Regions from separate parts of the Homo sapiens genome. Here all the other regions are linked to region 1. Evidence: fine-mapped expression QTL. A gene starts in region 1. Each other region holds a variant in brackets. All regions are shown on one strand. Distances are from middle to middle. Region 1 holds the start of PSD3 (pleckstrin and Sec7 domain containing 3). Region 2 has its middle 41 kb from the start of PSD3. Region 3 overlaps PSD3 (pleckstrin and Sec7 domain containing 3).

The links. PIP is the estimated chance that this variant, and not a neighbour inherited with it, causes the effect. A credible set is the group of variants that fine-mapping cannot tell apart.
Region 2: its variant is the best candidate, but not a certain one, in a credible set for the expression of PSD3 in thyroid (GTEx, PIP 0.67).
Region 3: its variant is the best candidate, but not a certain one, in a credible set for the expression of PSD3 in atrial appendage (GTEx, PIP 0.69).

Annotation. Positions count from the first base shown.
Region 1 is chr8:19,008,070-19,018,874 of GRCh38, forward strand. It overlaps PSD3 (pleckstrin and Sec7 domain containing 3), which reads right to left and starts at 5,634. Exons shown (of 16, transcript NM_015310.4): 1 at 5,494-5,634. The coding sequence starts at 5,514. LOC124901898 (a long non-coding RNA gene) reads left to right here and starts at 5,934. Exons shown (of 2, transcript XR_007060840.1): 1 at 5,934-6,127. RefSeq lists silencers at 5,518-5,617, 5,688-5,777.
Region 2 is chr8:19,049,056-19,059,860 of GRCh38, forward strand. It overlaps a transcript of PSD3 not described here. Among named protein-coding and RNA genes, the nearest start is that of PSD3, 41 kb to the left of the region's middle. The variant T/C (reference allele first, on the strand shown) is at 5,265.
Region 3 is chr8:18,815,817-18,826,621 of GRCh38, forward strand. The region is part of intron 4 of PSD3 (pleckstrin and Sec7 domain containing 3); the gene reads right to left. Among named protein-coding and RNA genes, the nearest start is that of PSD3-AS1, 100 kb to the left of the region's middle. The variant A/G (reference allele first, on the strand shown) is at 5,788.

The DNA.
Region 1 (10,805 bases):
CTGACCTCAGGCGATCCACCCGCCTCGGGCTCCCAAAGTGCTGGGATTACAGGCGTGAGCCATGGCGCCCGGCCAAGGGAGATTTTTATAGGGAGATATAAGCATCAGCGGGTGGGGAAGGTGGCTGACAGACCTTTTGTAGCCACTAGAAATGAATCGGCGAAACATAAAAATCTGCCCAAAAGTAACTTTGCTATTCAAACAAAGTTTCAGATGCAAGAAATATCTTGCCTCTTCAAACACTCACTACTTGCACCTTGTAGGGACATGAAGGCAGAGTCAGAGGAGACACTCTGGAAGATCACAAAGCCTGCTGTCAATTTCCAAGCATTTTTCCAATATAACTTCGCCAGAAAATAACACAGTCACGAAGACAGCAGCCATCTAATGGCATCGTCTGTGCCATCACTCTTATACCTAAATTTCCACTCTCCTAGTGTCCTATGACTCAATCAAAACTGTGCCTATCAAATAACTTCTTGAAAGTACAAGTTTTTGAAAATCTACATTCAAAAAAGCATGTAAGTTTCCATATACAGAGAAAAGCAGTTCCACTGGCCCTTAACCAGTAATCTCCTAGAGGCCAAACAAAAGAAGCTACAGCTGCTTCTATTAAAATTTTCTACTTCTCTTGTCCACAGACCAAACAGGCATAAGAAAACCAAGCTGCTCGATTTCTATAATTCACTTTTTCTTAGCAAAGGTCTGAGAACAGAAGGCCAGGGAAACAGGGAGCAGCTGCCGCCTGGTCTTATGAATGCCCTCGGCTCATTCCCCATCCTCCTCCTCATTGTTTCAAGCTCCTTTTCTTAACAATCTCTAAGCCCCAGCTCATGGGAAGAAATAACAAGGAAAAGCAGCCTTCACTGTGTCAACACCCTCTGTGGTTGAAGCATCTAGATCACTTCTCTGAGGTGATGCAATTAGAAATTAAATTAGAAATTAAAAAGAAATTAAAATACATTCCATTTTAATTTGTTAATCTGCTTTATTGTGAATTCCAATTAATGACACATAACTACGTGGAACTCCTTACATGTGGTCCTACAGAGATCCTTTTAGACACCCCAGGGGTTTTGTTGTTGTTGTTTAATTACACCATTTCTATCTCTTGAGCCAAACAACAAATCTGGTCCCACTATTAAGCCAACAAATGTATAATGGTCGGTGATGAATTAGTCATCCAATATTCAGATTCCAAGACTCGAATAATCTAAATATTAGAGCCAAAGAGCTCAGTTTCTGCAACACGCAATGCTAACTTTGAGACATAAAAACAGAATGGTGGTTAAGAAAATTGGATGACCTGAGTTTAAAGTCTCAGCTCTGCCACTTACTCACTGTGGGATCTTGAGCAGGTTCCTTAACCTCTCCTGACTTCAGAATGGAAATAATGACACTACTGACCTCATGGGTTGTCATGGGGAATAAGGGAGACAACCCAAGTAAGAACTCAATAAACATTAGCTGTGATTGTAAAAACGCCCCATGCCAGGAAAATATCACTCGAAATAAGCGTTTTCCAAAAGTTAGGACTTGGCCGGGCCTGGTGGCTCATGCCTGTAATTCCAGCACTTTGGGAGGCCAAGGAAGGCAGATCACCTGAGCTCAGGAGTTTGAGACCAGCCTGGGCAACACGATGAAACCCCGTCTATACTAAAAATACAAAAATTAAGCTGGGCGCAGTGGCGTGTACCTGTGGTCCCAGCCACTCGGGAGGCTGAGACAGGAGAATTGCTTGAGTCTGAGAGGCAGGGGTTGCAGTGAGCTGAGATCGCACCATTGCACTCCAGCCTGGGTGACAGAGTGAGATCTTGTGTCAACAACAACAACAGAAAAATCAGGACTTAACAAGAAACTTAGAAAATGCTGCTTTCTCAGAAGACCCGTGTGAAAATACCATGTAAGAAAAGAACACCAGCTTAGGTCAAAATGTTAATTTTCCCAGTTATCCTAAATCCCTAACTCCAATAATAATCTTTTAAAAATATCCTTCAACATGTATAAATTATTCTGATTCATCTCACTGATGTACACTCAGAGGAAAGGGAATTTCAAACCAGATGGCTCAGGAGTGAGTGGTCCTCAAGTAAGCCTCAAGGAGTGAGTGGTCTGCCATGGCCGCAGCCTGACATGCAGGAAGGGGAGAAGAGCGGGCGGATCCCTCACACCACCGGTGTCACCAAGAGAGAAAATGCTCTGCCACCTCTGTGCCCTGATGTGTCAACAAAGTCCCTCCCCACTAGGCACCAACTGGGCCCAAGTTTGTTGACCTTCTGGGCGCAGTGAAAAACCTTTCTTTTGGTAGAGCAAACAAGCACTGCAGGGACATGCACTGTTTTTATATAAATAAGATAGCACACGCAAAGATTCATTATTAATGTTGAGTTATGCCTTATTTTCAAATGAGGCATGGACATTTGGTAATTTGGATTTAAGAATAACTTGTTAACTATATGCTGCAAATTATCCTTTTTCTCCATTGTAAATTGCAACAGCCACTACAACACTACTTAATTTGGAGCTTGTGAAAAATGTCCTTGAAAGATGGTCAACGTAACTCAGAAACACTCTTTGAAAAAATAATGCCACCACTTAAATTCTTTCCAGCAAATCCCTGAGTCTGCATACAATATCACAAACAACACAAGCTGTCAAGATATGGGCACTCCGAACAAATGCTCTGGAGAATTTCACATGGATCCTGTACTCTCCTAAATGAAAGCCAGGCTGGTTTAACTGTAAAAGAACTAGGAAGAACTGAGAGGCAATATTCAAAGTGAAAACACTTCCACTCTTAGCAAAGGGAAGCCAAGGACCTCTGTGCTTGGCCCAGACGGTCCGGGAAGAACCCCTAAATGGTGAGAATCACAACAGCAGTAATTCAAGGTCACACTAGATCCCCAGCCTCCTATAAGCCTGATTCACATACTAAACTCCACAGACTTTGGTCACCAGATTATTTTTTACAGTCTGACCCAACTTCAATCATGTCTGAATTCCTTTCCAAAAATTGGAAACGATCACTATCCATAACTCACCTCCCAATCCAACCCAAACCCAAAGACACTCTTTTCATAATGTCCAAATGACATTACCCCATGTAAACCTCAAACAAACCAGTCTTTAAGCCAAAGCAGATACACATTTTAATATTCACATGGTTTTGCCTCAGCATCTCTTAACCAAGACTGCAATTAACCTATCACCACACTGGTGTCTTAGTTTATGAATAATGCATGACAAATCACACCTGAATTTCTATAAAAGAAAAAAAATCACCTCCAAAAGTAGTAGTACCATGGACATGTTTTTTCAATGTAATGCCACGCTAAATTCCACTCAAATAATTTTCCATCAGGGCTGGCAAACAAATATGTAAATATCAAGGTTTTAGAAAGAGGGCAGAGCCATTGACTGAAAGTACCTTTAAATTTTTCTTTTTCAATGAGCTACTTCCATCTTACTTTATTTTTTTATTTCCAAATTCCCAAGATTTACTAGCCTGTAAGAATTTCCAAGGTTACTCAATTTTTTAAATTACTAGTATCTGATTAAAAGCAGAATTGAATTGCTTAAGTGCAATGTACATAATAAGGTATATGTTATTCTTTGGTCACAAATGAACAGTGTCAACAAAACTTTCTTTAAAGAAAACACACATTAAGATTGGCAAATCAAGCTTCTTATGCTCGCATTTAAAAAAAAAAAAACAACAACAACATTCAACCACGGAATTTGGCCGTAATAAGGTTATTTTAGCTTTGTAGCTCTAATCACTCTCCCACATTCAATGGTCAGGATAAGAGTGCTGATCCATTCACAGAACACACAAACAGATATTTAGAATGTGAAATTAAGAGTACATCACTGAATAAGTAATGCATAAAACGTGTCTAGGCATGGAAATATCAAATGGTAGGGCTAGAAGGCTCTGAAAGAGCATCTACCTAATCCCCTCACCCTACCAGGAAACTGTAGCGACAGAAGTTAAATAATTTGCCCAAGACGGTGGCAAAAACTCACCCAGTCAGTGGCAAAGCCTCTAAGCTAGGTGTCCTACCTACAGATCCAAGTCCCTTTCTTGATACCACTCTACTCCTTTTAGTACAAAAAGCTTCTATTAATGAAATATCTTACAAGACAAATCACTTGTGGATGGATATAAAAAGGTTGTGGAAGGACATCCAGCCAGCCACTAAAAACTGGTTGAAAAGGTGCTAATTTATTTTGCATTTGCTTAACTGGTGATGTTGAGCATGTTGCACTTTTAACTGCTGAAGAGGAATTTCATGACTTTTTGAAAAGAAAACCTCTTGGTTTGTAAATACTCTCAGAAAAGAAAGGATCATTTCTTGGAAAAGGGTAGAAAGTGAATTCCCTTTCCTTTAGCAGGGGACATCCTTTCCCTCACATCTCACAAAAATCCAATCAACCCCTCCCTTTCAAGGTCCAGCATAACTGCCAGCTCCTCTCTGAGAACTTCCAAGCCCGGAGGCCAGAAGCTTCCTCTGAGATCCTCCATGGTAGCCTACGCATAAGTCTCTCCCAGGCAAGCTCTCAAGCACGCTTCTTGAAAGCAGAAATCCTATCCTACTTACCTAGCTACCGGGCTTTGCAAAATCCTTTGCACATACTCAATTACAACGAACGCATTGAGGCATTTGTTGCCAGAATCCCACTTACAGTAATTTTCCAGATCTCCGTCTTCCCTACACCAACACCTGGACCCACTCAAGAGTTATTCTGGAGCGGAAATCCTGGATCCCGCTATCGGGAGAACCAGTGTCTAGAAAATGAAATCGTGGTGCCCATTCCATCCTCTGCCTAGTGGGCGTTTAACATCCTTTGACATCGAGGGGAATGGCAAAACGAAACATTTATTATTTAGGTCACCAACAACATTCTAAACCCACGTCCTCTAATCGGTGTTAATGTGTTTAAAAAAAAAATTCAGAACATCATTCGCCAGAACGGAAAGCTGAAAACGGCGGATAAAGTTAAATGCATGTAAAACAGAATGACTTAAACATCTGTAAAAGCTCCTGGGAATTGCACCGAATAATCTTCCCTTGTCCGTTTGCTCGCTCAATTCAAGTTTGTTTAGTTTAGTCTTTTTTTCTTTCTTTCTGACAGAAACGTGATAGTCCCTAAATACAAGCTGACCGGGCAAAGAAAGATCGGCATACGAGGTCCTCTTTCATGTTGCCTTCTTTTGATAGCTTTTCTCCAAAGTCTGAGGTTTTCAAAGCCGAGGTATGAACTAAAACCCCTAAACCTTAACACCACAAAGTTGACCCTGCTGGGCTCCTAAAAAACACAAAGCAAGCAAGCGCGAAGAGAAAAATCGCACCCTGCACCTATCCAGACAGCACAAACCCAGGTGGCCCCGGGATCCTGGGGGACAGAGCGGCGACAAAGCAACACAAACCCCACGTCGAACAGCGGCGCCGCGTGCGCACCCCGCGCCCGCGCCCCGGCCCCGGAGCTCACCGCTGCGCTCCTTCCTTCCATCTTCCATCGCCAGCCCGGCCGCGCGCCGAAACCGCCGCCGGGCGCTCCGGGGCCGCAGCCTCAGGGCGCGAGTGCCGGCGGCCAGCGCCGCGTGCTCTTTGTTGAGCTCCCGGGACTGCCGAGAGGCGGCGGCCCGCGCGCACCCTGGCGGAGGCTGGCGAGGCTGCGAGCCCGCGGCAGCCGCCCGCCCGGCCCCCAGTAACGTCAAAGCGAAGGCGGCGCAGGCGGGCCGGCGGTGGCGGGCCCCGGGGGCGGAGGGCGGAGGGCGGAGAGGCGGGGCCGACGCCTCGGGGAGGGGGGAGGTGGCTGGGCCTCCGAGGCGGGGGCGGGGTCTCCAGGGCAGGGGCGGGGCCTCCGGGGGAGGCTGGAGGCGATCCAGACCCTCGCAGTGCAGCCCTCGAGCGGCCCGGACCGTCCGCTGCCTCCCGCAGCCGCGCGCCCGCCCTGGGCCCAGCCTCCAGCCCGCGAGCGAAAACCTGCCTGTTGCTTTGTCTTCTTCCTTCACAGTTTTCCCACCCTGAGAAAAGTGAGAGGTGCTTTCCCTGGTGTTTCCTCTCAGGAAGGGCCGTGTGACTGGAGCCGCGAGTTGGGCGCCGTCTCGCCGGGGCTGGAGGTACGCGGGCTTCGGGACACGCACCTAGGCGTCCCTCGGGGTCCCGGCCTCTCTGACCGGGCTCCCCCGGCACCGATCCGCGGCCGGAGCGTTTAGTCCCGGGGACCCGTCGAGCCCTGAAAGGGCCATTTCCCCCTGAGGCGAGTCCCCCCAGGCGCCCCGCAGCCTGGCCTCGGGACTGCCCCCACCGACAGTGCGTGCGCGGGGAGAGGTCACTTAAAACTGCATTTTCGAACATTAGTGCCCCGGACCCGCACCTTTTTTCCTCCGTCCTTTGATCTGTGCCGCAGAGGCAAGGGCTGGAACGGCGCCCTCCCCTGGTAGAGGGACGGAGAGACCGCAAATCTTTCCCCCTGGGAGGTCCGTTAAGTAGATCCAAGCACCTGGAGGCGGAACCTGTGTGGCCGGCTACAGGGTGGTCCTGTGTATGTGTTACCGCCTTATTGTTCCAAAGAACAGTCTTTTTCAAGTGACAGGTAGAAGACGCCCCAATAACGAGAAGTGACTGACTTGGCCAAGCTTAGAGATGGGAGTGGAGTCAGGTTCCCTGGTGGCCCCACGATCTCGCCCACCATGTCAGCATGGGCTGCCCGGTGAGCATAGCTGAGATGCACCAAGGCCACATAAGTCACCTACTTTGCCTTGGCTGCCCCATCTGCATCTATCAAAGGAAGCCTTGGACACCCACCAGAGGAGCCAGCATGAGGGAGTGTATGCCTTTATACAAATTCACTCCAACTTCAGAAAAACGTCCGCAGCTCATGCTCCCCCTGCCAGAGCAGCAGTGTGAGCAGCTGTGTAGGTTTGGAAGCACCCCAGTCACTTGGGCATTGATATGGTTTGGCTGTATCCCCACCCAAATCTCATCTTGAATTGTAAGTCCCGCAGTTCCCAGGTGTGTGGGAGGAACCTTGTGGGAGGTGATTGAATTATGGGGGCGGGTCTTTCCTGGGCTGTTCTCGTCATAGTGAATGAGTCTCACGAGATCTGAAGATTTTAAAAATGGGAGCGCTTGTTGCACAAGCTCTCTCTTGGCCTACTGCCATCCGCTTAAGATGTGACATGCTCCTCCTTGCTTTACGCCATGATTGTGAGGCCTCCCAACCATGTGGAACTGCAAGTCCAATAAACCTCTTTCATTTGTAAACTGCCCAGTCTCCGGTGTGTCTTTATCAGCAGTGTGAAAATGGACGAATACAGGCATATTTCTCGTTTGTGATCTCCCTTTACCCTTGCGTACATACCCTACAGAGACAGTCCCAGTGTGCCTATTCCCAGTCAACTCCTGCCTTCCTTGACGGTTTTGTTGGCAAAGCATCAAAAGTAAGACCCAGTACAAAATGTAGTTGCTACCCTGAGGCTTGACCACTGGCCTACTGGCCTTTACCTGGGAAATTAACCAACTCATAAACAAACAAAAAAAAGTAATCATATAGGAGGCAGGGTGGACATAGATTTACTTGATATTTCTAGTTAAGGGACTTGGGCATAGACATCTATAATCTGAGCCTCTGTTTCCTCATTTATAAAATTGGGTTAATAATGCCATACAGAAGTGTTATTAGCATGATAAATTAAGGAAAGCTCCTGGCCTATAGTGAATGTTCAATAGAGGAGCATTTCATAAGTGAAGCCACAGAAATGTGTTTCCAATTTCCATCGCAAAGGAAATTTTTAATTGGTTTTATCCCTGAAGCCAAAATATTTTAAGATTGTACTTATAAAGCTGATCACATCTATTAAATAATCATTCATTCGTCCAGTTATAAATAATCAAAGATAAAATGGTTAGAGGTTCTGATCAGCATAAATTAGCCAGTGTTACCACTACTAAGTCAATGAAGCCTAAAGCAAATCAAATAAACATTGACATTTCATTTTTGCCAGCATGTATTTTGTGTGTAAATATTTTGTTAGGCTTTTGGAAATATTAAAAATGAAGTAAGAATCCCCATTTCTGCTACCATAGCCCCCAGTGCTCAAGTTCAGTGTCAGAATACACAAGCACCCGCCTTGGTAAAAAAAGAAAGGAGGCACGCAGACCACCTAGGCATGGGCTAGTGTATATTTATCCAATAACATATTCCTCCCCCACCTCTTCCCATGAGCCCTAATGTATGTGGTGTGGAGAGACTATATAGTAGGCAAGACATTATATACTGCAGGTCAAAAGAAGAAAAGGAAGATGAAATTCCATCATGTATTATTCATGCATACAGTTAATCCTTCCTATTTCTGAAGGTCACTGAAAAGCCCAGATTATTGAATATTTATTTTTTAGTACAACATGAACGTTTATTTAGAATGACAAAAATCTCAAATACAAATTTCTAAGAGTTGACAAATCCCACAAACATTACCAAATCCAGAAAAATCACACAATAGTTTTATCTACCACCTACATAATATTTTGTAGTAATAAACTTCCTAAAACACTTCAGTAATATTTGTCTTCACCTGTTTTCTGCTGCTATAAGAGAATACCACAGACTAGGTAATTAATAAAGAAAAGAAATGAATCTCTCACAGTTCTGGAGGCTGGAAGTCCAAGAGCACAGCAACAGCACATGGTGAGGGTGGTTCCATGGTGGAAAGCATCACATAGCAAGCAAGCACAAGAGACGGGAAGCAAATGGGGTCCAAACTTATCCTTTTGTCAGAAGCCCATTCTCTAGATAACTGACTCACTCTCTTAATAACAGCATTCATGAGAGCAGAGCCCTTATGACCCAATCACCTCTTAAAGGCCCCACCTCTTAGTCCTATTACAATGGCAATTAAATTTCAACATGAATGTTGGCAGGGACATTCAAGCCATAGCAATACTTTTTCCTCAAGTATTTTGGCTACATACTTTTTTTTTTTTTTTTTTTTGAGACAGTATCTCACTCCATTGACCAGGCTGGAGTACAGTGGTGCAATCACAGCTCACTGCAGCCTCTACCTCCCAGACTCAAGTAATCCTCCCACCTCAGCCACCCAAGTATCTGGGACTACAGGCACACACCACCAGACCCAGCTAACTTTACATTTATTTAAGATGGGGTCTCCCTATATGGCTAGGCTAGTGTCCAACTCCTGGCCTCAAACAGTCCTTCTGCCTCAGCCTCCCAAAGTGTTGGGATTACAGGCATGAGTGACCGTGCCCAGCCTGGCTACATACTCTTGATAATCTCATTGGAAAGATTTTTTTAAAACAGCTTTATCAAGATCCAATTCACATACCACACAACTCACCCATTTAAAGAGTACAAATCAATGTGTTTACTATATTCACAGATTTGTGCAATCATCACCACAGTCAACTCTGGAAACTTTTCATCATCCCCTAAAGAAACCCTATCCCCATTGGCGGTCGCTCCTCTTTTCCCTCCAAACCCCTCAGTCCCTGGCAAACACTAATTTACTTTCTGTTTCTACAGATTTGCCTATTCTGGACATTTCATATAAATGGAATCATAAAATATGTGGTCTTTGTGACTGGCTTCTTGCACTTATCATAATGTTTTCAATGCTCATCCATATTGTAGCATATATCAGAACTTCATTTTTTATTGCTAAATAATATTCCATTGTGTGGATAGGCCACATTTTATTGATCCATTTATGAGTTCATGGACATTTCAGTTGTTTCTACTTTTTGGCTGTTAGGAATAACACTACTATAAAAATTTATGTACAAGTTTTCATGTAGCTGTTATGTTTCCATTTCTCTTTTCCATTCTACCTAGAGTAGAAATTGTGGGTTATATCGTGACTGTATAACTTTATTTCCAATCTGTTTTCCACAGTGGCCGCACCACTCTACATTCCTACCAGAGCAATGTATGAAGGTTCTAATTTCTCCACATCCTCACCCACACTCATTATTGTTTTTGTGTTTGATTACAGCCATCTTAGTGGGTGTGAAGTGGTAGATTGATTGTGTGACATTTTCTATGGGTTGAATAGATAGCCCAGTCTTTTCTCTAGCATGGTTGATCACAATTTTATTATTGACAATTTAGGAAAATCCCACCCTCGCATTTATTACTGATAATAACATTTACACTTTTAATATGTTTTCAAATTTTGGAAGACCTCTCAAGTTTCTTTCATATATAACTGTAGGATTTCAAGGCATTTCATTTTTTATGCAATGATTAATATTAAATGCTCTTTTTAAAAAAAAAAAATGAGGCATAAGGGATCTTCCTAAGGTGATGCAGGTGTTCTATTTGGGTGATGTTACATTTGTCAAAACTCATAGAATTTTACACTTAAAAGCTGTGCATTGCTCGTATATAAATTTTACTTCAATAAAAGAAAAAACATATAATTTTGAATCAAGAGAAATGTTCCAATAGTCAATTCATTGTTTTAGACTGAAAGCTTAAGAGATATGTAGATGTGTGTGTACATGAAAGCACGCATGCGCTAATAAATCTGAAGCTGAGAACATCTTGCAAAAGGTAGAGGTGGAGAGCCACTTGGAATTTGTTTGGGCATTAAAGATAGAGGTGTTGATCCAAAACCAGAGAAAATACTTTTTCTTGAATCAAGTGTGTCTGAACATCAAAAATTTGACTACCCAAGTCTATCCTCATGAGAGTCAGAAGATAAGTTTCTTTTCTGTTTTGAGACAGAGTCTTGCTCTGTCGCCCAGTCTGGAGTGCAGTGGCTCAATCTCAGCTCACTG
Region 2 (10,805 bases), 41 kb after region 1:
CCTCATTTTGCCTTAATTACCTCTTTAAATCCCTATCTAATTTTACCTAATGACCTCATTTTACCTTAATTACCTCCTTAAAGGCCCTATCGCCAAATACAGTCACATTTGGAGGTACTGAGTGTTAGGAATTTAATACGCGAATTTTGAGGAGGACACAAGTCATCCCATAATAGGCTCCAAAAGGAGGTGATATCTTGCAAGGTGGAGCGGAGAGACTATCTCCCATCGTCGTAGTCCTACACACAAGGAAGAGGTCAGAAATCCCTTAAATCTAAGCCATATGTTTGAATGAGCTCCCTGTGCTTCTAAGACCTTCATGTGCCTTTACAATCTATGAGAAAGGATGATGTGCCAGGCACAGTGGCCCACACCTGCAATCTCAGTGCTCTGGGAGGCCACGGCAGGAGAAATGCTTGAGGCCAGAAGTTCAGGACCAGCCCAGACAACATAGCAAGACCCTACCTCTGCAAAATTTTTAAAAAATTAGCCAGACATAGTGGTGCAAACCTGTAGTCCAAGCTACTTGGGAGGCCAAGGCAGGAGGATCACTTGAGCCCAGGAGTTTGAGGCTGCTGTGAGCCACGATTGCTCCACTGCAGTCTAACCTGGGTGACAGACTAAGACCCTGTCTCAAAAAAAAAAAAAAAAAAAAAAAAAAGACAATAGTGAAGATGTCTCTATTTTCTCCTCTAATGAAAAGGTAAAAACATAGGTTATTTTCTCTCCTCGGCCTCCTGAGCCTGCATTGATTAGTGAGACACAGAGCAGCATGGCAAATTCGAGTCTGAAGCCAGATTCCCTGACTGGAATCCCATCCCTGCCACTTACAGTGTAACCTGTTAACTGACAAACCCATTAATAAAAACCAATCATGACAAGGGAAGGAATGGAGCAATTAAAATTCCTAGTTCCAACCACTTTTCAACAGAAAGTTGAAAGTCTCAAATAAGCCAGGGCTTTGAAAACATAACACTTTTGTTCAAACATGCCAATCAACTCGTGATGGAGACTGCATTAATTCTTAGATCAAGAGCTCATTACTTATAATGTAGGTCAAGGAGGCCATGTCAGCTCTGCTAAGTTAGTCTTTGAGGACTGCAATTTGCAAATTAGAAAAAAGAAAGTGTTCTAATTAAAATGACTCTGTCATTTCTGGGCCTTGGAAGTGTGCCAGAATGTCCTTTCTGAGCAGAAAAAGAACTAGCCACAAAAATGCAGTGGGCTTCACAATCTACGCCCATGCCCATATCCCCGCCTGTCAAGGATATAATGGCTAAGAGGCTTAGAAAATACAGAAAAATCATGCTGCTATAAAGACACATGCACACGTATGTTTATTGCAGCACTATTCACAATAACAAAGACTTGGAACCAACCCAAATGCCCAACAATGATAGACTGGATTAAGAAAATGTGGCACATATACACCATGGAATACTATGCAGCCATAAAAAATGATGAGTTCACATCCTTTGTAGGGACATGGATGAAATTGGAAATCATCATTCTCAGTAAACTATCGCAAGAACAAAAAACCAAACACCGCATATTCTCACTCATAGGTGGGAAGTGAACAATGAGAACACATGGACACAGGAAGGGGAACATCACACTCTGGGGACTGTTGTGGGGTGGTGGGAAGGGGGAGGGATAGCATTAGGAGATATACCTAATGCTAATTGACGAGTTAATGGGTGCAGCACACCAGCATGGCACATGTATACATATGTAACTAACCTGCACATTGTGCATATGTACCCTAAATCTTAAAGTATAAAAAAAAATACAGAAAAAGATAAGGAATTAAACAAGTGGGCTGAAAACCTCCCGTGAGCCAGGAGCTAGTCACTCACATTCTCTCCCAACTGTCATGGTGTCCTGAGGCAGAAACAGAGCCTCAGAAAGGAAAGAGAGTTTGCTTAAGATCTGTAGGCTCATAGGATTTGATGTTAAGACATATGACTCCAGATTCCAATTCTAGTGCTCTTCCAACATCCTCAGAGTCTATCCAAACCTCTCCACACTGCAGCTAGGGTGCACATCTGATCATGTCTCACCTCTGCATAAAGACCTTCAGCATCTCCATGGCTCTTAGAATAAACACACAGCTTCTTAAGCTGGTCCAAGAGACCCTCCTCCCTCTGGTCCCAATCGGGGGATGCTCATTCCTTCCCATCTTTGCCTCGATAACCAGCGCTCGTCCTTCAGTTCTCAGTTTCAGTTCCATTATCCAGGTCCTAAGAAGGCTTTCCTGCTTTCTGGGATCAGACTACACTCTCTGTTACATACTCTCATATGACTCAGTGTTGCCCCTTTTTAGCTTATACTTATTCGTGTTATCAAAACTTGTCATCTTTAGTTATCTATAAACTCCATGAATGCAGTTTCTTAGGGTGTCTCCATCACCCCACATAGTGCTGGCACATACTAGGCACTCAATAAATATTTTCTGAATGGGTGAATGTTTTAATGAGTGTGTTTGCATGAATTTTCTTCCTTTCTATTCTTTCTGCTCCTGGAGTGTGGAAATTGGCTCTGAGGCAGCAGAGGAAATAAAAATCCCCAATCAGAATAATTGCTCCTTCCAGTAACTACCTGCAGAACGATTTGTCATTGTGTCATGCTGATTTATAACAAAGTTGGGGGATTAGCATGTTACCATCTTCCCCTACTAGACTGCTGGCAGGGGTTACATTTGGTTCATCATTGTATCCACCGTACCTAGCATAGTACAAGAGCTCACACATCTGTTTCAGGGAGAAAAACACAAAGAACTAATGAAAAATTACAGTCTACAGGAGTAAGATCTCTTAGCTCAGGCGTGAAGAAATTCAGAGCACAGGTAGATTAATTAACTCCAGGAAGGAATAGGAAAATATCTTCCACTGATACTACAAGAAAAAGAGAGGACAGATGTAGAAATAAAATTAGATCAAAGTGATGGAGAATGAGGAAGGGGGCATTTGTGCCAGGGTCCACAATTTGCCCAATTTCAGGCTTTCCATGGCAAGGTCTGCAGGGAGGAGCAAGATTGGATGGAAGCAAAGGTGGAGGCTGGAAGAGAGCAAGGATGGTCCAGAAAAGCCACTGTGGTGAGAAAGTCAGAAAGTTCATTAAAGAAATACAGAAAAGTGGCCGGGCACGGTGGCTCACGCCTGTAATCCCAGCACTTTGGGAGGCCGGGGTGGGCGGATCCCAAGGTCAGGAGATTGAGATCATTCTGACTAACACAGTGAAACCTCATCTCTACTAAAAATACAAACATTAGCCAGGTGTGGTGACATGCGCCTGTAGTCCCAGCTACTCAGGAGGCTGAGGCAGGAGAATCACTTGAACCCAGGAGGCAGAGGTTGCAGTGAGCCGAGATCGCACCACTGCACTCCAGCCTGGTGACAGAGCGAGACTCTGTCTCAAAAAAAAAAAAAAAGAAAAAGAAAAAGAAAAGAAATACAGAAAATGAGCAAAGCAAAGTGTCAAGAGCTGAGAATTGGTTTAGTCTGGAAACTGTTTCTTGTAGTTTCTCTAGCTGTGCTTTATTACCTAAACTCAGATCTTGAGGAATGGGGTGGAGGCTTCATTGTTAATTCAGCTAATTCGGAAGTCCAAGTTGGGAAAGGAGTTCGGTAATATCAGAATGGGTCAGATTGTCTACACAAAGGGGGAAGGAGTCTAGTTGCTGCCAATCTTGGTGACGGCTGAAGGTCAGGACTTGAGCCCCCTAAGCTGTGGGTGGGTGGGTCCATTGGGTGCCCCCAAGACTTGAAAATCAGGCACACTGGGGAGGGACAGGTGCTTGGGTGCAGCTTTGAATGTGAGTAGGTAGAGGAAGTCCAGCCAAGCTGCCCAGGCTTACTTGTAGAGGGCCTGCTTGTGTCACTTCCTACTGACAATGACAAATTCCCCACCTCGAGCCTTCACACTGTGGAAGGTCAGGCAGGAGATGAGCAGCCTGGAGCCAGGGCTTTGGCCACACAGGTAAATTTAGGGAAATTCCCTAGGAGGGTGAGTGGCTAGGAGGTTGTAGTCTTGGAGTGACAAGGTGACTTACTGGGCAGGCTTTCACCACAGTGGTTCACTATAAATTCAATCAGACAGAAATCCCAAGTGTTAAAGTCATCTTAGGAAGGTGAAAGTGGGTCTATGGCGCACAGGGGATGACTGGAGTAACGTCTTAAAGGCAGGTGGTGGGAACAAATGGGGATGTGTGGTGGCTCTGGAACAAGTGCTGAGGACAGAATCATCCCTCCGCACTGCGTCCCCTGCCCCCTGCTGCACACACCCACTCCTCTCTTCTTGAAAGAGAAAAAGAATAAAATGAAATCTCACAGGAGAGAATGCTGGGACAGAGTGATTTAGAGAAAGCTTCATTTCTTATCAAATGAGGAGATGAAGTAAGGAAACAAAGAGACTTAAGATGAACTTGGAAAAACATCTGAAGCCTAATCAAGAGGGAACACAGGCCGGGTGTGGTGGCTCACACCTGTAATCCCAGCACTTTTGGAGGCCAAGGCAGCCGGATCACTTGAGGCCAGGAGTTCGAGACCAACATGAGGAAACCCCGTCTCTACTAAAAATACAAAAATTAGCTAGGTGGGTGGTGGTGGGCGCCTGTAGTCCCAGCTACTCAGGAGGCTGAGGCAGGAGAATTGCAGTGAGACTTCGTCTCAAGAAAAAAAAAAAAGTGACATGCTAATGGTATCTTAAACTTTATCACTAGATCTGTGAGGGAAGGATTTTTTTCTGTTTTGTTCACTGCAGTATTCTGTATACCTAGAAAAGTGCCCGGAAGAGAAGGCACTCAATAATTATTTGTACAAATGAATGAATGAAATTTTGATTTTTGTTCACCTAAGGAAGGTTGCAGTCTTGGAGTTACAAGACTGCTTACTTGGTTGGCTTTCACCTTAGTGGTTAGTTAAGCCAAAAGAGGACTCCTTGAGCTTACTTCTTCCTGTCCTTTAAGTGTCTTCTCCTCTGACTGTAAGTTGTACTGGTACTTGGGCCTGATGTACAGCACTGCTAGACCAGGTCCCTGAAACTCCCCTTCATGGGATCCTCTAGGGCCTTTCTCCTGCCGCGGGCTTGTTGCCATCCAGTGCTTTGGAAGCTACATGTTGAATTGATGGAGTCATGTAAGTGAGGGAGGCTAGCCCCTGAATTGCTGATTGAAAACATCCTCCCACAGCTCAGAAACACACATTTTGGACTGTACAGGAATTTAAAGGAAACTGCCATTCTGTTAAGCCCTTGAGATTCAGGAG[T/C]TTATCTGTGAGAGTATCCCGTGTTACCCAAACTAATGCAGGGACAATGGCTACCTGGTTTATGATCATCTTTTTGGTGCCTGGAAGAACTTGTAGCATATGTCAGAGACTGAATAATGTTTGTTGAGGGAAAGAAAAAAGAAAGGAAAGGAGGAAGGGAAGGAGAAAATGATATTCCCAGAGCTCTATAATCATCTTGTCATGGATTCAACTTATTTACTTATTTTTACCATCTCCATTTTCTTCCCCACATCTGCCGTAATTTTTTATATGCTGAAAATGCAGTAAAGAATCTACCTTTGGATATCTGCCAGATTTATTCCAAGGAATTCATATTTTTGGTAAACTTCATATTAATAATACCTGTGAGGTAAAACTATTTTGTAAAACTGAGATTAAAGAAACTATTCTCAAAACAGAATCATAATAACAAATTTATCGCTTGATAACATCTGATAGCACAAACAATATTAAATCCTGATAGACCTGAAATTCTAGGCTTGGAGAACCTTTAAACTAAGTCAATTAGAAAATTAGAATATCATATACATTATACACTATAGACATATATGTTATTATTTATTACCAGCAGAAAGAAAATTTGTGATAGAAACTTCTAGTGCTCACCTGGGCACAGGGAAGACTACCTGTTCACCCCTGTACAGGTAGACAAAGCACTGTGACTTCTCCTAGACAATGTGAGATGCATTTGTCACTTCTGGGCCAAGGCAGTGAAAAGCTCTGATTCCTCTACTTGATCTCTCTTCTCTTTACTTGAGTTGCATGAGCAAGAAATAAGCCTTTGTTGCATTAATCCACTGAGAGCCAGATGTTGCTATGTTGCCATAGAATAGTCTTGCCTAGCTTAATTTAGGATGGTTACCCAAGAGGCAGTTCATACAAAACTAATGACATGTTTACGTCCTAGATGATTTATAGACTCTTTTTTTTTGGACAGAGTTTTGCTCTTTTTGCCCAGGCTGGAGTGCAATGGCAGAGTCTCGGCTCACTGCAGTCTCCACCTCCCAGGTTCAAGTGATTGTCCTGCCTCAGCCTCCCACGTAGCTGGGGTTACAGGCGCCCGCCACGACGCTCAGCTAATTGTGTATTTTTAGTAGAGATGGCATTTCACCAGGTTAGCCAGGCTGGTCTCGAACTCCTGACCTCAGGTGATTCACCCGCCTCGGCCTCCCAAAGTGCTGGGATTACAGGCGTGAGCCACCGTGCCCGGCCGATTTGTAGACTTTTTTTTCACTGGTCTGCATCATTAATCCTTGGGAGAAAGGACTAAGCTATGGTTTTTAAGGTCAAGATACCAAGAATAGGCAAAAGGTTTAGAAAGGGTAAGTATAGTTGGTGTTCATGATACAGACTGTTGACAAAGCAAAGTTACACAATTAAGACAAGTGCACTGAAATGTCAAACCTCACTGAATTCACACCTCCTGCTGTGACCTGTGGCGACAGAGATTTCATCTTGGCAGTGATTCCTTTTCCTGTATTCAGATTACATTAAACTTGATTGGAAAGCTGTTCACCAAAGGTAGACACAGAAATCAATGCAATTCAACACTCAGCCTTGCTGATGCATATGTCAGGAGAACACACTACTTTCCCAGGTTATCTGTTCTCTTATTAAAAATGCTGCTACACACCTCCTTAAAGACACATTCTGCTGTAACATAACTCTATTATCTTGAAAAATCTTTATGTCAGTCTGACTTCTTTTCTTCTCCTTAGTGTTAAATACTCTGCCCCTTGTTGCTATTCTTTGACTTTTAATCTCATTGAAATGCGATCACTTGCAGTAACGTCTTCGTGGGATAACTTCCTTTTCTTTGATCGTTTTCAAATACAGGCAGACAAAATATATTATTTCAATGTAGAATCTATAACTTAAAAAATAGTCCACAAAAGAAACCTGTCATGGCCTCCAGGCAGTTAATGGTTGCAGCTTTGCAAATAAAACTGACCCTCCTATAACATAATTGATCGAGCCAGTCAGAAACTGGGTCTGAATATGTGGATTTAATTTAAAAAAATTTCTTGGAACTGTTCCTTTCAGTAGAAGAGAAGTCAGAGTTTTGACACGTTGTACAATTATAAAGAAAAAAGAAGGCTCCTGATGGAAAGCATGGACAAATTCCATGTACACAATCTAATTAGCATGAAAAATGCATGGGCAAATGAAGATATGTCTAAGTTGAAATCATATTAGCAAAGCAGTTGCTATCATTTCCAAATTTCAACAGGCAGCAAACATTCCATTAAGGCTCCAAACTACATATTATGTCTGTGCACATTTTCCATTATCAGTTTGGCTCCTTCATCAACTATTCCAAACTCTGTCGCTGGTTTTCTAGGTTCCACATTGGGAAGCTAAGTGAACCCTGATTACATGTCTGGTGCAAATATATCCAAATATCCCTTGCTGACCCCTTCCTTAGTGGCAGGAATTCAAAATAAGTGAACAAAGACAAAAGTAAAAAGAAATAGAGATAAAAAGAATACAATAAAGGGATTCACTGTGTAAGAATTCACAAGAGGTTAGGTAGAAGCTTGTTCTGCTCTAAAAATTCCCTCTAATCTCCCAAGCTGTGGGTGATGAGCTCAGCTTACACTTTTATTAAGAAAATAGAAGCTGTCTGATAAGGGTATGAACTTTCATCTTGCTATCACCAAACCTATACGCCGGTTTGCCTCTAGCTAGCTTTTGATGAGCTCTTGATGCTACTTCATCTCTTTCCTTCTTAAAACTGGTTCCCCTTGGTTAACCCCTCAATCCTGCATCAACAGCACATACTCCCTGTACTGCTCTCACTGGCATATGAACATGTTTGACTATCTCTTTATGCATTCTTCCACCCGCTGCCTCATTTCTCTACTCTTGTTCATAATCAAATTTGAACAAGAAATTTCTCTACTCTTGTTCATAACCACTCTCGTTCACTCCAAGAGTGGTATACACATACTGCTCTTCAGCCTACTAGAATTTGGTTTCACCCCCATCTTTCCATGGAAGTTTCTCTTGACCTCTTGTCAAGGTCTCCACATGGCCTCATCTCAGCAGCATGAAACACAATTAACCCTTCAGTTTTCTATGACACGAAAACCTCTGCCCACCACTCTGGTCACGCCTTCTGTGTTCTTTGCAAGATCCAGGACTTACATTCAATGATCTCTACTAGTTTGGCTATACCAGTTGTTAAATATTGAAATATTTCATACTGGTTGTAAATAGTTACCATCCTTAGCCACCTTACCCCACCTCTCCTCCTATCTTGGCCCCTTCTCTGGGACCCTGCTAAACATTTGCTTCATCTAGCAACTAAAGAGTTATGCCCCCAAAGAAGAGGGCCTCCAAGACCCCAAATAGGTTATAAGGACACCTATTAGTGAAATAAATTCCAAAACCATGATGAGATACCACTACACATTTATTAGAATGGCAAAAAAGAAAAAGAAAATATCAAATACTGGCAAGGATGTGGAGAAACTAGCTCTCGCATACATTGCTGGTGGGCGTGCAAAATGACAGGGCCACTCTAGAAAACAGTTTGGCAGCTTTTTATAAAAGTTAAACATACGCTCATCATATGACCCAGCTATCCCACTCCTATTTTCCCTAGAGAACTGAGAACTTCTATTCACACAAAAACCTCTACAGGACCACTTACAGCCCCTCTATTCATAATCACCAAAACTTGAAAACAACTAACATGTCTTTCAAAGGATGAATGAGTAAACAAACTAAGGGTCACCTGTAAGTGGAATATTCAGTAGCAGAAAGGAACAAACTGTTGATACATGAAATAACTTGGTTGAATCTCAAAATCATTGAGATTTGCTGAGTGAAAGAAACAAGTCTCAGTGGGTTACGTACTTTGTGGTTTCGTTTGTTTTGATATTCTTGAAAGCACTAAACTACAGCGATGAGGAACAGATCAATGGTTTCCAGGGATTATGGGTGGGGAGAAAGTATAAGTATAAAGGGATAGCATTAATGAGTTGTTTTGGGTGATATAACAGTTCTGTTTCCTGATTTTGGTGATAGTTGTACAAATTTATATAAATATATTTATAATATAATCTATAATGTAAAATTATATGATATATTACATTGTAATATATAATATATAATAGCATATACAATATAAGTATATAAAATTTATATATAATTTATATACATTTATATTATATGTGTGTTAAAATTCATAGAACTGTACATACACACACACAGACACAAGTCAATTTTACTGTATGATAATTTTTTTAAAAAAGTGTTGTCTACCCTACCAGCTAGGCCCAACTTAAATTCTACCTGTATCTCTTCCTTTTCCCTAAATTGGGTGATTAAGCACATTGTACAAAAGTTTCTTGAAGTTTGGAGATGTTTCTGGAAATTAGAGAACAGTGCCAGCTCCTTATCTAGCTATTTTTGATGGTTAGTGGCTCATCAGTACCGAGGCCTGTAGGGTGAGAGGGAGCCATCACGTGGAGCACCTTGGAAAGAGGAAGTGAGGATGTTGTCATTGTTCTCCATGGCTTTGGAAATCAAGGCAAATATTCAGCTGGTTTCTGTGACCCAGGTGAGGTTAATTGAAGGATGGGCACCCATAGCTGGCCCTCGCGTTCACTCTTCAAAGCAGAGCTACCCAACCTGAAGAGATATAGCATATATGGCTGGCAAGAGCCACAGGAAAGATTGACTGTCCCCCAGTGATCTTTTGGGCTGGTTAGCTGTATTGAGGCTGAACGCTGCCCATGGAAATTCCTTATGCCATCCACACAGAAATCTCCACTTTAGCAGAGACATGAAAAGCAGAATCACCAGAATCTAAGTCATCGGAAAGTCTCTCATCCAAATAACACCCAGTTGTGGGTGAGTCTGCTTCACAGTGCCAGGAATCAAACCAGGAAATGGTGCCACAACAGGGGCCAGCAGAGGAGGGACCACACCCAAGCTTCTCAATTCCTTAGACCCCCTTTACCTGCGTAGGAAGATGTCCCTCTAGCCTCCATCTCTGTTGCTACTTCTGCGGATGATGGAACTCAAAGGAAAAAAAGGAGAGCTCATGAGAAGCACAAGGAAAGCAGGGTACACCAAGCTCTGAAACACACTATTTCCAGCAGCACCAGTAGCAGCTGGTGCAGAACAAGAAACTAGCCCCAGCAATCTAAACTTTTAGAAAAGTCTAAGATTTAAGCCAGTATCAGGTGGGACCAAAGTACTTTATTGGGTAACATCAGATCCCTCCTTCTCCTACCCCTGTGCCTAGACAGGGAGATTATGAGAACAAAAGTTTGCTATCAGTTAGTCAAGAAATTTAAAAAATTTCTACGTCTGTAAAGCACTGAGTTGAGACCTTTAATCATTCCCACAAGAAAAAGAAGAAAGGTTAGAAAATAAATTGTAAAGATAAAGGAGACAGGAAATAAACAATTCACAGAAAGTTCATGGCCTTTCTCTTGGATCATTTGCTTTTTTCCCAACCTGCCAGGGTGCCCTTCAGCTCTATCTGCCCAGCCTCCTCTCCAGGGC
Region 3 (10,805 bases), 190 kb before region 1:
CAGCCTGACAACATATCCTCTCTACACTGAGTTTCCCCTAAGTGCTACCTACTACAACTACACTGAAAGCTGCTCTATGCGATATAGGGAAGGTTTCTTGGATTCACTTAATTTTGTGTGCAATGTTAAAAAAGAGGAAAGAATTAGTACCCTGGCAAGAATACAAGGAGTAAGACCCTCCCCTTAGGAAATAAAATCCTATCTCTGTCACTTCCTGCTTTCATCTCTTTAAAATATTCCAGCTCCCCTGGAGACAGATCCAAAGGGTCATCTTCATCTGGGGCTATGGGATTAACAGGGGACGTTTCCACTCTTTAGTACCCAATATGAATGAATTAGTAATAATATCAATAAATATTTTGTCTTAACATATTTTTATGAAGAATTCCAGAATGTTTACTCTGTTTAATACACTATTTTAAGCACTTTATACTAACTCACTTAATGCCCTTGACCTTACGATAGGTACTTCCATCATTCCCATTTTACAAAAAAGGAAACTGAGGTATGGTGCAGTTAAATAACTTTGCCATGACCATTCTGCCAGCAGGAGGTAAAGCTGGGATTGGGGCTCAGCAATGGCGGCTGCAGTTGTGCATTCAGCCTCTTAACTAATAAGCTATGTGGCTTTCTAACCGATATTACTACAGGTTATACTGCACGCATAACTTTGGTGTATATAGGAACAAACATTTCTACTTTTTAAAGGACATCTGTATATGTGTTTACTATGGTTGCATAATTAAGTATACACAACCAAACCTGCACAAATTTTCACTCCAATTATTTATTTAAACATTGACTATGTGCCAGCACATTTCTAAGTGCTAGGGGTGCAGCCTTGCCCTTGTGGACTTTTACCTTCTAATAAGAGAGAGAAACAATAAAATACATGAAGAGTTTTCCCTCTGTTCCTGCCTTTCACCCTCCCACAAATATCTGAACATGTTACGACTCACACACTGTTCCAGGTAAATATTAGGTCTAATAAAGCATCAACAGATGAAAGTCCTTGCTTTCAAGGAGTTTACACTCAGACAGTGACATTCATAAGTGCCTTGGAGATAAATATAGCTAGGTATGCAAGAGGAGAGGGAGGGGTTGCTATTTTATTCACAGCACTCAGAAAGTACCATGTGAGTAGAAAATAGAAGGAACTGAGGATGTGGCTTTGCAAGCTATCTTCAGATCATTTCAAACAAATGCAGGCCTGGGCAAGATGGCGTTTGGTAAGTTTTAAGTGATGGCCCAGAGGAGCCTCCATGGCTGGAGAGGAGTGAGCAAGGGGAAGAGGAGTTAAAGAGTCCCAAGGAAGGCCTGAATTCACTTACAATTTCAAAGTAGTCAATCACTTGGAAGCTTCAAAATTAACTGCCGATTCTCCAACTTCCACAATCGGAGAAGGTACAACAATTTACAAAAGGTTATTAGTATCATATATGTACTTTAGACACATGTTAGCTTCCAAAGTTCGTGGGCTGTTTCGCAGTTCCCCCTGTAATTCTGCAGTACCTCTCCATGACCATCACATCATCTAAGGGTCCAGACTCTTATCAATCACCTAATTCACCCTGTAGGTCATGGATTCAGAGCATACTCTCCCCAGCACTGTGCCCCGAGGGCTAGTCTGTGATTTTTCTAAGGCTGAATCCTTATCTTAATGAAATTTCTAACACAGCACCTTGGATAATGGCTGGGCTTTAACATACGCTCAGTACAACTGTCCTAAATCAAATTGCAAGAAGCTTAAAGGAAAAGTCAAACAACTGTGTACTCGTCTCAATGCAGCTATCAACTTGAGTAGAAGATGCCCAAAAGCAGTAATTCAAATGTTTTCTTTCATGAATCTGTATACAAAGCTGAAAGTTTCTGAGTTTTATTGTAAGCAATTTCCTTATTACGGAATCTAGAGACTCTGATCAGCGGAAATCATCTGCCAATGAGCTCTCTCTATGTTGCAGATCTTTTAATGCTTATCCCTTATTGTTGCCAAATGGGGAGCAACGTGAAAAAGTGGCAAAAGCAAAGTGGACAGAATGCAGCGGTGAAGAGGGGAAGGTCTTCAGCTCTTAATATCTAACCTAAGAAAACTAAAACCATGATTACTAAATAGATTATATGCATTACGTTTTTTGTTTTTGGTTTTGGTTTTTTTGAGACGGAGTCTCACTCTGTCGCCCAGGCTGGAGTGCAGTGGCGCGATCTCGGCTCACTGCAACCTCTGCCTCCCCGGTTCAAGCGATTCTCCCACCTCAGCCTCCCTAGCAGCTGGGACTACAGGCACCTGCCACTACGCTTGGCTAATTTTTTTCATTTTTAGTAGAGAAGGGGTTTTGCCATGTTGGCCAGGCTGGTCTCAAACTCCTGACCTCTGGTGATCCATCCGCCTCGGCCTCCCAAAGTGCTTGGATTACAGACGTGAGCCACCGTGTCCAGCCTACGTTACCTTTATGAAAGACAACTATTGTTGTCAGTTTCTACGCTTTTAAACTAGTTTTTCCTTCCCTTCATTTATTATATTTTAAAGTAGGGAGCTACTTTTTTTTTTTAGGGAGCTATACATGATCTTACTTTGCCCTTTGATTTCACACTAGCGCCTCCTAGAACCAAACTACCTGTAAGGCGAGGAGGGTGAGCGCTGTGTTCTTTAATGTGAATTAGATGTTATCTGCCATCTAACTCAATCTCAAAGTGTTTGGTATTTTAAGACTGAAATCATGGCATTTTGGAGGTAAAAAGAGGTTAGTGACATAAGCTGGAACAGATTCAGTTATTGGGCACAAGACAGGACAATCTGCTCTGCAAATAAACTGAGAATTAAAGAGACCCAGTAGACAACAAATTTAGTGAATAATGTCCTCTCCATACCCCCCCCAACAACCAGCAAAAAAAGGAAAGAAAGAATGAAGAGTCTTTAAAATCAGTTGGGAAGAAAAACATTGCATTTTCTGGCTTTCTAAAATGTGACAAGGCCTTTACATTTATAATCTTATATTAGTGACAGTCAGAACCTCCTAACAGATTGTTAGAGTAAATTTAAATAGGAATCCCCTTGGACTGATAAATGGGGGCAGGTGGGTTGGGGGGAAAAGTCATCCCTGCCAGGGCTCACAGGTAAACAAGCAGAATTCAGGGCATGTCTGCCTGTTACATCAGAGACCCTTGATGTGATCCAGAGGAATTGTGGAGTAATCTGGACAAGCACCTACCTCTAGGCCACAAGGACTTAAGAAAGTGAACTGGAGAACTTCCCGGCAAGACTACCTAACGACTGTTCATATCAAAACAACTGGTACCCAGAGACAGAACTCCTGACTCCAAATCCAACACTTTTTGTCCACTGCACCATTGTATACAGCAGAGATGACAAGGTAAACAGCTGTTGACAAAGCCAGGCTTTCCAGAGGGTAGGTTTAGTCAACAAATACTTTGACAAGTATTTTTCAAGGAAACTAAAAAAGACAGAGTCTAAAGGAGAGGATAAAGTAACAGGCAGCACAAACCAGCTTGAATCACCAAAAAGAATCCTTCAGAACCAGATCATGAGCCTTCATGAAGGGAGGGGATGAGGACAGAAGCAGCCAGAGATGCTACTCAATAGAAACAAAAAAAGCCCTCCCCAAACTCTTCCCCTGAACCTCTCCAGAGGGATAAGGCAAAAGTGCTGTTTTTGGCAAAACTATGTAAATACAAATTCATATTTCATTAGTTCCTAGACACATTTTTTAAATATTTCAAATTCTTTAAAATTAGAATGGATTTTTTTTTTTTTTTTTTTTTGAGATGGAGTCTCACTCTGTCGCTCAGGCTGGAGTGCAGTGGCGCAATCTTGGCTCACTGCAACCTCCGCCTCCAGGGTTCATGTGATTCGCCCACCTCAGCCTCCTGAGTAGCTAGGACTGCAGGCGCCCACCACCACGCCCAGCTAATTTTTGTCTGTTTAGTAGAGATGGGGTTTCACCGTGTTGGCCAGGATGATCTTGATCTCCTGACCTCGTGATCTGCCAGCCTCGGCCTCCCAAAGTGCTGGGTTTACAGGCGTGAGCCTCCGCACCCAGCCAGAATGGTTTTCTCATGCATCAACCAGTGTGAACCCTGGCAGCCAGGTGGCTGTCAGACTTTTATTACCTGTGCACAACGCAAAATTATACTGTTGGTTTAATCTTGATTTAATTGATGTTTACAGTGTCTTCAAAAAGATGCTATAAAAGGTACTGAGACAAAAGTATTATTTATGCAGGCAAGCATCGAGAATATGCCAAAGTCATTTGTATGTAAAAATCTGTAAGTTTAAGAATTATTAGAAACTCCAAGAGAAAGCACTGTGTCATAGTTAATTGCTGGCATTTTTTTCCTTTTTTTTTTTTTTTTCTTGATTTTGTATTTAACACCATTTTCTCCAAGTGAAATGGCATATTCTTTTCTGGCAGTAGCAGAAAATATATGAAAATATACTTTTAAATATGTAAAATATAAAATATAATAAATTAAGATACTGACTTATCTCCCAATCAATAGTATCTTAGATTCAAAAAATTTGATGTTGTTTGTTTTCACTAGTACTGTCATCCCTTGGTATCTGTGGGGTACTGGTTCTAGAACACTCCCCTACAAAATACCAAAATCCATGGATGTTCAAGTCCCTGATATAAACTGGCACTCAGTATTTAAATATAACCTATATACACTCTGCTGTATACCTTAAGTCATCTCTAAGCTACTTTTAATACCTAGACAATGTAAATGCTATGTTAATAGTTGTTATACTTTATTGTTTGGGGAATAATGACAAGAAAAAAATACGAACATTCTCAGTAGAGATGCAACCATTTCTTTTTTTTTAAATCTATTTTCCATCTCCAGTTGGTGGAAACTGCCAATGTGGAACCCACAAATACAACAGTCTGCTGTATGCAGTTGCCTTAAAACTCAGTAACATTTAATTCTGGTTTTCTTTTCTCTTTTGAGACAGCATCCTGCTCTATCACCCAGGCTGGAGTGCAGTGGCGGAACTGCAGCCTCAGCCTCCTGGGCACAGGCAATCCTCCCTCTTCAGCCTCCTAACTGGGACCACAGGCGTGAGTCACAATGCTCAGCTAATTTTTAAAATGTTTGTAGACACAGGGGCTCATGATGTTGCCCAAGCTAGTCTCGAACTCCTGGACTTAAGTAATTCTCCTACCCCAGCCTCCCCAAATGCTGAGATTATAAAAGGCATGGAGTCACTGCACCCAGCCTAACGTTTAATGTTTAAAAACAAGATTTTATTCTGTTTATTTTCATTTATAGGTCATGACATTCAAACAATGACGGCATAAAAATTCCTTCTGCTTTGGGCAAAACAAGGTATTTTGAAATTCTTTTTTTTTTTTGACATTTAATTCTAAAGTTTTATGGCCAATTCCTCAAACAAGACCATTCAAAAAGCTACAGAAATTCTCTCTATTCAACGCCTTTTAAAATGCTATTTTTCAGTGTAGCTAAATGAGAATGATATTTTGTAAGCACTGCTATTATTAGAGACTAAGAATACATTTGAGATTATTATTAGAATTTTACTTTTTCATTTTCCAAAAAAAATAATACCAGGTTCCAAAAAGCTGCACCTTGAGATTATAGGTAACTATTCCTCATGAAAAAAAATTACAGGTTGGATGAAATTTGCGTGAATTAGTTAAGACCAGTATTTATAATCAAGGCCTAACAAAATTACAAGCTCTTGAGTTTTTCCTAACAAAACTGAATAATATTGTTTCTCATTTGTGACCAGTTTCTATGGAAATGAAC[A/G]ATATTCCAGCTAATTCAAACACTGCTGCAGATAATATTAAATAGCAATGTCATTTTAATTCCAAAATTTTGACCCCCACAACACACACACACACACACACACACACACACACACCCCAATAACAAAGCTCCAATTCCAGGTGGCTCTTAAACTTCTATACCCATGGCTTCAAATAATAATTTTGATTTTAAGTCATAATTTAGCCTCTCACTTCAAGTGTTTTGAGAAGGGAATACCCACACACACATGCACACACATGCACACACACCACACACACACACACACACACACACACACAAATGGTTGCTTAGAGGACAACCTCCATCCTAAGAAAAAATAAGACTGGCAAGTAATCGAGTTCTTTAACTTCTAAGCCCCCGACTGCAGAGTCACAATGCACCTTAGTACCCTTAGCAAAGACAATAAAGACGTAAAAGTCCTTCAGAAAAGAAAAAAAATTTTCTTTGTTTCACCACCTTGATAATTTTTTGTTTACTTCCTATTTACTTTCTATCTTTTCTACATGCAACACACTCTTTGTGAAACAGGCATTCCAACTTTTGCTAAGCTATTAGATTTACACAATAAGGTTTTTTTCTACACAGAAACTTTGGTTGAGAAGGGGCCATGGGAAGGTCTTGTACATGATACAAAGAAATATCCTAAGAAGAAGTATGATGCATAGCCCTAAATAAAGTCTGTCCTGTGTCCCATCCAGTTCTCCAAAGGACATCATTCAGGCATCACTTGACAGCAGAACCAACCTGTGTTGTTCCTTTAGTAGTAGTACAGTCCATCCCCGGGAGTGTGTTCCAAGTACCCCTTCACCACCCCCTAAGCTGGACAAACATACTCTTAAGAGCAATACTCCACCTGGTGCGAGAATAAAGTAGAATCATCCTCAAATTCAACTCTTAAAATGGCAAAAGTCTGTGACCTGGCTGTGATGTCCTGTGTCAAACTGTCCCTCCTACGCCAATATCTCCCTAGCGACAGTCTCTGCCTCCTGACCTAAATGACATAAGCTATCAGTGTGAACCACTAAGCAATTCCCAACTATCTGCCTCAAGAAGCTGCATATCAGAGATGAACTCAGAAAACAGCTTGCACTCATGTTTTATGACTTTCAGAGAACACTGACATTTCAGAATGAAATTCACCACGGAAAAGTCATATGCTGACCTCCCTAGTATATTAACCCCATGTACATCTCATCTTCTCAAATAAAAAAATCCATGTCAGATGACCAGGTTCAGGTATTTTAAAGTTTACAGCACAAGAATATTTGCTTAAATGTGCTTCTCCTAGGTCCTGGCACTACCTCACTCCCATCCAGCACATGTGCTCACTCCAAAAATGGCAAGCCGATCCAATCAATCAGCTCTTGAAGTTTCAATTTAAGCTCCATTCTTTAATATTATTTCTAAAGCATATAATAGATAATATTAATCTGGTTTTATAAAGAAGGAGGAAAAGGGAGAATGGAGAGACAGGAAAAAAAAAAAAAAAACCTTATCACTTCAATAACTAGAAAAGCATACCTGAAGCCAAAATAGACCTGCCAGTCTGGAACTTCCCCTCAGAGGATACACTCCTTTCTTCGGAGTCTGCAGAAAATAAGATGCACTTTGGCACCATTCTTCAAGCTCGCTTTAAAATTTCTCCTTCAACTATAATCAAGTCATCTAGACAGTCTAAGTTTTACATTTTGAATTCCTATCATTGGAACTAGGGCTGATAAAATAAAAACTAAACATCCTTTAAATCAGTTAAAAGATCTTTACCCTAGCCACTCAAAATAAGAACAAAATACAAGTAAAGTGGCAATAATAGCAAAGGCGTGAATTCTCCCCTCCCCTTTATTCACTAGAGGTATGAAAAGTCCTGCCCTATTGATGATCAAACCGCCTTCTGGGTCCTGCCACAAGAGATCCTGAATTCCGCAACTTATCATTGAATTCTGCAATGTCACCAGCTGCAAGTCACCCAAGAGATGACGTTTCTACACCTTGTCACACAGTACTGTCACATGCTAGTCACTCCATAGCAACTAAAATACTTGCAGATGTAACTCTCATTGATACCATTTAAAACTTGCCTAAGTTTTTGGGAAAATGAGGACACCATACCTCCTCTCTCCTTACAATTACACATGGTGCTTTATCTTAAACACACTCACACACACACACACACACACACACACACACACACCCCATTCCATGTTCACAAGTGTTTCCTAATACGCTGACAAGGCGGCCTAGAAAGCACTATAAACTTAGTGGAGAAAAAGTGAGGTCAGGCATGGTAGCTCAAGCCTGTAATCCCTGCACTTTGGGTGGCTGAGGCGGGAGGATTGCTCAAGCCTAGGAGTTCGAGACCAGCCTGGACAACACCGTGAGACCTTGCCTAAATAAAACAAATTTCCAGGCTTATCTGTACATGTCTGTGGTCCTGCCTACTTGGGAGGCTGAGGCGGGAAGAGCACGTGAGCCCAGGACTTTGAGGCTACAATCAGGTATGATCATGCCACTGCACTCTAGCCTGGGTGACAGACATGGCCGTGTCTCTAAGAAAATCAGTAACTTTTTTAAAGTGAGACCCAGGCTATGTCAATTTTCCAAAGACACAAAGATACTTAGATATAAAGTTAGAATTAACCACATGTATCTGTCTTCAGTCCTAGAGTACCTTCCACAGTAAACATTCCACTGCCCTTATATAGTTGAAAGGAAGGCAACATGGTGAAGAGAAAAGAAATGATAAATTTGGAGGCTCAAGCCGACCAAAGTTCAGGTCTCAGCTCTAAATTATGTCACCTTTCTCATCCTTAGTTTCCTCATCTGTAAATACTAAGGATCAGAACACCTGCCTTACAGGGTTACTGTGGGGATTAAACAAAATCAGTAACTCAAAATTAGGTATTAGTCTTAAGATATTTAAGACTTTAATGGTTTCTGCTTCCCAGAATTCTTGATTTTACAAAATAGAAATAGAAAAATTAAATTCTGCGCAATTCCCAGAATAAATTCAGGGGCCATCTATCACTGGCTAAGGCATACACTTTATTATCTATGGTAAATGCTACAAAGAAATGTGTAGTGTTTGGGGGAAGCAGTGAATAAGAACAGAGATCAAGATGGCTTTGTCAACACCTGACTGCGATACAGATAACTAGAAGAGTCAAATTAGATCCCTAGGCAGAGTATCAATAACACACAGTACTTCAGCCAGCGTGCCAGGGCATACACGAGTCCAGCATCATCCTTTTAGTCAAGTATTTGAACAAACAAGAGGACAAGAATTGCCCTCTTTCCATAAGTCCCCCCAAAACAGTATTCTATAAAACCCTAGTGTGCTCTAGGCTCTGAAAAATCAAAGCTATAAAAAAATACACACATACAATGTTTTAACTTTCCAGCATTTCTCAGATTTATTTGACTATGAATCATTTTGTACCTAAACAGAATTTGAAAAACCCTGCCTTTCTGCAATACTACAATATACTAGTGCAGTCCCTGAAACTTATGTGTGTATTAGAACTACATGGGAAATTGTTAGAGGCAACTTTAGGTCCCATCTCAGACCTAAAGTTTGAGAACCCAAAAGTTAGTTATATTTCAAAAGGCATCCTAAGTTCTAAACAAATTTAGAAAACTACTGCACCAGTAGGTTTTTAGAGTTGTCAGTTGTGAAGACCACCAGACTCTCCAAATTCAGTGTCTGTAAGAGTCACCTGGGAAGCTTGTTAAAAACACACATGGCCAGGTACCACCCCCAAGAGTCAGATTCACAGGTTCTGGGGTGCAACCCGGTTTGAGAATCACAAATGGTCTAACTAGGCATTCAGTGTCCACTGGCTATAAGCATCCTCACCGTAACTACCTTGTATTTTATTAGAGGATAAATAATAATTAGGGATATGAGTGTTGAGGGGAAGAGAATCCTATTCACTGGTACAAATTAACTCAGAGGGTTTCAGTATTTTGAATGAAGATGATTTCTTCTTTTTCCAGTCCCAGCTCAAAGGAGAGGATGATTTAAGAAATTATGATTCATACTTTGAACATTACTGTTTTAACTGATCAATATTTTCAATGGACTGAGAACAACCTGTGAAAATCTGATCTCTTCCCTAACCTCCACACGCAACTCATTGCTGGCTTTAAAAGCATTAGCAAAATCAGCACATCCCACAGGGATCTATGTAGTCGATTCACAGTCTCTTCATTTGATCAGAATCAAGTTCTTCCGTATTTCCCCCTACAGCAAAAAGGTCCTGGGATGGTTAATTTTACGTGTCAACTTGACTGGGCCACAGGATATCTAGACACCTGGTTAAACATTGTTTCTGGGTGTGTTTGTGAGGCTGCTTCTAGAAGAGATGAGCGTTTGAGTGGTGGACTGAGTAAAGCGGATGGCCCTCCCCAATGTAGGTGGGTATCATCCAAAGCCCAAAGGCCTAAATGAATAAAAGGGTAGACAAAGTCTGAATTCAATCTCTTCCTGACTGCTAAACTGGGACATTTCTCTTTTCTGCCCTCAGAGCTCCTGGTTCTCAGGCTTTCATACTCAGACTACAATCTAAATTATCAGCTCTCTGTCGCTCAGGCCTTCCAACAACACCAGAGGCTTCCCTGGGTCTCCAGCTCGCAGATGGCCGATCGTGGGACTTCTTGGCCTCCGTAATCACGTGAACCAATTCCCTATAATGAATCTCATGATAGATAGATAGCACCTATTGATTCAATTTCTCTGGAGAATCCTGTTACAATTACACTACTCTCTACATGAACTGGACCCAAAGAGAATTGTATCAGTAGCAATTTCCCTTCTAACTTGCCTAGTCCAACTTACTATATGGCTCATCAAACAGCACATCTTATTACTTTATTATTACCTTATATTCCCTGTGATGTAAATAAGATTATTCCTCAAGATCTTTTGTATCTTTCCCTTGGGAATATAAATTGAAATGTTACCATCAAAGAAGGAAAGAGTCATATTACCTACAGCTGAT